Linked DNA regions of Homo sapiens: region 1 is linked to region 2. Evidence: fine-mapped expression QTL. A gene starts in region 2. The other region holds a variant in brackets. All regions are shown on one strand. Distances are from middle to middle.

Region 1 (2,914 bases), 150 kb before region 2:
CATGTAGTTTCTTGCAAACTATATACTAGAAAAAATACTTTGGAGATATAACTAAAAGAAGGAAGGAAGGGAGGGAGGGAAGGAGGGAGAGGAAGGAAGGAAGGAGAGGAGGGAAGAAAAAAGGAAGGAAGGAGAGAGACAAAGGAAGAAAAAAGGAAGGAAGGAAGGAGAGGAGGGAAGGAAAAAGGAAGGAAGGAAGGAGAGAGACAAAGGAAGAAAAAAGGAAGGAAGGAAGGAGAGAGAGGAAGGAAGAAAAAAGGAAGGAAGGAAGAAAGGGAGGGAGGGAAGAAGAGAAAGAAAGAGAGAGAGAAAGGGGGAGGGAGAAAGAGAAAGAGAGAAAGAAAGACAGAAAGAGAGAAAAAGAAAAAGAAAGAAAGAAAAAAGGGGAGAGAGAAACAGAGAGAGGGAGGGAGGGAAAGAAAAGAAGGGAAGGAGGTAGATGGCTTGAATAATGTAGGTCATGCTGAGGCTGTTCACAATTTTAAACGTCTAAAAAACACAGCTGATATCTACCTAGAAGGAATCACTAATAAATCATACTGTTTCAATATTATCTAAATATATTCTTATTAATGACATACAAAGTAATAAATACATTACAGTGTTAATGCATGTGTGTGTTCAAGAGAAACAAGTAGAAAGTAAACACAAGACAGAGTTCGTCCCTGTAGATTCCACAGTGAAAATGTGCAGCGCCCATAAAGGTTGGGACAGAACGGACGAAGGCCCTCAGTGCTTCCAATCCACTGACGTTTATTTTCAGGCAAAGGCCCATTTTAAATACTTTCTATCAATGTTAAAATGATGAGTTTAATGTGTCAAAGTAGCATGCTTTTAAAAATTGGGGATTTTTTTCATGGGATGATTTCATCAAGTAAAAATCTCCAGGCAAAAATATCCTACACTCCAATTTGCCCAACCTCCTCTGTCCAAACAAAGGAATAACACTCATCTGAGCAAGACCTCCTCTTCCCGCCTAAGCCTCCCCGCACCGCACGCCCACCAATGGGCTGGCGGCCTCTCCAGCAGAGCCGGCAGATTTCCCCAGCTGTGGGAGGAAAGCTCTGTTCTCTTCCTGTGATGATATAAGCCTCTCCTCATCCGTCAGCTTCAGTTGTAGGAGAGACTCCTGCCTAAATCGGTGGTTGGGGTTGGCTTGAGGTTTCCAGCTACCCAGAAAGGGACCCGCCAAGAGAGGCCGCAGCTCGGCACTTTAGCTGGCAACTGTGCAAAGCTCCACCCCATGAGTAGTTGCATTGCTTCGGGTAAGCTTCGCCACCTCTCTGGCCTTTACTTTTGTCATCTCTGAAATGCAAATAGTAATTGCGTCTACTTTAGAAGGCTTGTCAGAGGATCCACTGAGACAGCACAGCTCCTGCATTTAGAAAATGCCCTCATGCTGCAAACCTTCCAGTCACCAGCCAGCAACTCTTCCATATCCATCCAATAACTCTCTGTTCTGCACCTAATAAGCATTCCACTCTTATATA[C/T]AAGCCTCCTTATAAAAGGCCTAGACTTAAAAATAATAATAATAGCAAACACATTGAAGGTAAATGGGAATGAGGGCACTTTCAACACACAAAGCTTATATAACATATTTGTGCTATTTAATTAAAATGTAACTAGTCATTCAGTACTGTGTGGTTTTTGTTACTTCCTTGTATTTTAATAGCTCTGTTCAAATATGAGTAACTCACCACAAATTGTGTGGCGTGCAAACTAATATATTCACCTGATTGGCCTCCACACGTGAGGGGGACGCAGCCGGGCCTCCTCGAGTCCCGCGTTCCTTCTGTGAGGGGGACGCAGCCAGGCCTTCCGGGCCTTCCCGAGTCCCGCGTTCCTTCTGTGAGGCGGACGCAGCCGGGCCTCCTCGAGTCCCGCGTTCCTTCCGTGAGGGGGACGCAGCCAGGCCTTCCGGGCCTTCCCGAGTCCCGCGTTCCTTCTGTGAGGCGGACGCAGCCGGGCCTCCCAGACGCCCGCGTTCCTTACGTGAGGGGGACGCAGCCGGGCCTTCCGGGCCTTCCCGAGTCCCGCGTTCCTTACGTGAGGCGGACGCAGCCGGGCCTCCCAGACGCCCGCGTTCCTTACGTGAGGGGGACGCAGCCGGGCCTTCCGGGCCTTCCGGGCCTTCCCGAGTCCCGCGTTCCTTCTGTGAGGGGGACGCAGCCGGGCCTCCCAGACGCCCGCGTTCCTTACGTGAGGGGGACGCAGCCGGGCCTTCCGGGCCTTCCCAAGTCCCGCGTTCCTTCTGTGAGGCGGACGCAGCCGGGCCTCCCAGACGTCCGCGTTCCTTCCTTGAGGGGGACGCAGCCAGGCCTTCCGGGCCTTCCCGAGTCCCGCGTTCCTTCCGTGAGGCGGACGCAGCCGGGCCTCCCAGACGCCCGCGTTCCTTCCGTGAGGGGGACGCAGCCAGGCCTTCCGGGCCTTCCGGAGTCCCGCGTTCCTTCCGTGAGGGGGACGCAGCCGGGCCTCCCAGACGCCCGCGTTCCTTACGTGAGGGGGACGCAGCCAGGCCTTCCGGGCCTTCCCGAGTCCCGCGTTCCTTACGTGAGGGGGACGCAGCCAGGCCTTCCGGGCCTTCCCGAGTCCCGCGTTCCTTTCGTGAGGGGGACGTAGCCGGGCCTCCCCGAGTTCCGCGGTCATTATGTGAGGGGGACGCAGCCGGGCCTTCCCGAGTCCTGCGGTCCTTACTGGTTAACTGTAGTCCCGCACTGTTAATGTTTTTCGTTTTTTGAAGCCAAGATAGCGTGCTCACCGCAAAAGAAATATGGACCTCGATGAACAGATAATAGGGAGAATCTCATGCACCCATCCTGGAATTACGTTTTTAGCTTTGCCCCCATCACTACCATTGGAGGGAAGCAGCTTCTGCGAGAGGCATTTGTAAAGTCTCCATGTCTCCCCAAGAAGT
Region 2 (2,914 bases):
AGAAAATATAAACATTTGAACAAAAAGGCTCTTATATAAAATAGTTTTACTCTAAGTAACTTAGAAATTATTTAGCTTATATAGCTTTGATGGTACAAGAAATTGTCATGGTTAATACTAAATTCAAAATCTGTTCTCTATATTTTATATAGCTAACTTTCATATAAATATTTACATATATATTTTTGCTTTATTCAGATCTATCTTAAAACTAAAGTGTAGAGTTTAATCTTTTAGTTTATTAATTTAGGTGTTACAAAAAGACATATTTCTGTTATAAATAACATTTTCTTTCATTATTATGAACTTCAAACATTTAAGTTAAATTTAAAAATCTTTATTTGAGTTTCTCCACTTAAACAATATAAATCAACTTTCTTCTTACCATCAGGTAAATTCATCCAAAATAGCTAACATTTTAATTGCCTTTGCATAAAATGATGTGCTTCATTTGTAATGTAAAGTAATCCAGTAAAGTCTCTGGGAAGTTTTTGTTTCAGTATCCTCTTATCCTCCAAACACCATACATGCACCCCGTTTTGTTTTTGTTTCTTTTTTTCTTAATAAACAACATCACAGTTAAGTCATGCAACCTAATACCCATTTTAGTTTAAAGACAGATTTTTTTGTGGATTACAAAGCCTCCAGTCCAGGAACATTTCAGCTACCAGCCATGCTGTAAAAATAACTTTAAAAAGGAGCAGACAATGGAATAGCAGCCTCAGCCCTTGAGCTACGGTAAAACACATCCTGCTCACTAAGTTCCCCGAAAAATTAACCTAACGAACATCACGTACCTCACAATGACCACAACCGCTCACAAGCGAAAGACAAGTTCAATTTTGGTAACTGTGCTGGCTCAAAATACACAGACAGGGAAGAAAACCCTGTTCCACCACAAGTTTGAAAGGATGATGAGACACATGCATGCCACCAAGACGCAGAAAAGGTGGCTTTTTGTCTTCAGTGAGTATGGATATCATAACCCATAGTCCAGGGAATGAAAAAATTAAAATGCACCCACCAACAATGAGCAAAAAACCCGGGGTGCTTCAACAAGACTGCAGGGAAAAGCTCTCTCACTGTTTAGTGTGCAGTAGCTTAGGGAAAAAAAAAATGTCGCCCGGGCAGGAATGACAAATGCAGCGCGATAGGCTCGCAGGCCTCAGGGATCTGTTTGACTTCCACACACCCCCATGCACACGCTCCCACTCATCCTCTCCTAGGCTTTTTTTTTTTTCCACATTTTTTTTTCACAAGCTCCAAATCCCCGGCATATGACCTTCTGTTAAATAGATAAAAAAAAAAATTGCTTATCAGTCATGCAAATGAGGCTGAATTCATTTTCCACAACAGATGGCCTCATAGATAATGATGATGGAAGAGAGAAAATTGAATGTCTCTCACAAGGTGGCCATGGCAACCGAGAGCAGAATAATATCAATAATAAACTCACTGCATAATAAGGTTGTCAGTCCTACAAATCAAAGTCTCCAGCTAAATCAGGTATACCACCCCAGCTAGTTACCAGGTAAATAGTACACACACACACACACACACACACACACACACACACTTCCACAGAGTGGCTTGAAATCTTTCATGGTCACTGTAAAATGTGTACGTGTGTGTGTCTGTTGGTGGCAAGAAGGGGTTGGGGGAGAGAATAGTTGGATAATGAAATGACAATGTGACTTTTTTCTTTTCCTTTCCTTTCATTATGTTTTCTGCAATAGACTCGGTTTCATGCAGGACCTTCTAACTAGCCATATTGAAATCGGGATGCGGTGCTGAAGGCTTTCTCTCCTCCCTCTGCCTCCGCGCTCTCGCTCTGATGTGCTGCATTGATGCAATAGCAGCTCGCCTCAGGCTTCCACCTTGGCTCCCAGGGGGACATCCTGCAAAATGAATCAGCAGCCATCCTGAGCAGGCTGATTAAAATGAAAATGGCAAGGCACATGTCTGGGCGGAACTGGAGCTCAGCTTTGCTGCTTGTCTGGCAAGCATGCTCAATATAGCTCTTGCTAATAATGGCTTACTGCCTTTCATTTTTTAAAAAGGTATCACCCTTTTCCCCCTTCACTGACTGGTGTTGTCTGTGTGTGTGTGTGTGGTGTGTGTGTGTGTGTGCACGTATGTGTGCGTGCATGTCGCGGGGGGAAACGAGAATGGATGGTTCTATTCTTCTAATTTTCTGCTGCTCACATGCAGACTGCCTGCCTGACAGCACCATTATTTTAACACTGAACTTACTTCAGCTTTTCTTTTGGGACAGGGTGGGGGGGCGGTTGATAAGTCTTGGGGCAGAAGGGCTAGTTTTAAAATCAAGCTGCCTAAAAGGCCCAGACAAGATTTTTACACTCCAGATTCAATAATTTCTAACCAAATCTGAAGCAACAGACCTCGAGAGAACTCCGATGCTCTGCTTCACAGGCTCACAGTTGGACATGCTGAAACACAGCCTATGAAGAAACCTATTTCTGTTTCGAGCATTTGCAACCAGCCTGTTACTGTATCCTAGATATTATGCAACACAGAGAATTAAAACAGAGAAAGCTACTAGCTAATAAAATAATCGAACACAATTGAAAAAATAAATCTTGGATATTTTGTTGTTTAAAATTCTCAGGCATAGCTTCAAGATTGCCCTCAAATAAGCTTTACTTTGCAGCACCTCTGCCGAGTATTCCAGGGTTTTTCAAGGCATTCTGGAAATTAGACCATTATCACCTCTCAAAAAAATGGTTGAAAAATTAGAACGAATAATTTTTCTAAACTCATTTTACTCTACTTCTCCTATACATCTTATTCTATGTTATAAACAGTCTTTAAATTTTGCTAAATTGTCAGTTTTGCTTTCCTTTGGTAACAGATGCTTGATTTTTGTATAAAACTATCTATCTACTTATTTTTG

The links. PIP is the estimated chance that this variant, and not a neighbour inherited with it, causes the effect.
Region 1: its variant is the best candidate, but not a certain one, in a credible set for the expression of MYT1L in testis (GTEx, PIP 0.81).

Annotation. Positions count from the first base shown.
Region 1 is chr2:2,183,681-2,186,594 of GRCh38, forward strand. All of the region lies in intron 2 of MYT1L (myelin transcription factor 1 like), which reads right to left. Among named protein-coding and RNA genes, the nearest start is that of MYT1L-AS1, 130 kb to the right of the region's middle. The variant C/T (reference allele first, on the strand shown) is at 1,491.
Region 2 is chr2:2,330,170-2,333,083 of GRCh38, forward strand. It overlaps MYT1L (myelin transcription factor 1 like), which reads right to left and starts at 1,106. Exons shown (of 25, transcript NM_001303052.2): 1 at 798-1,106.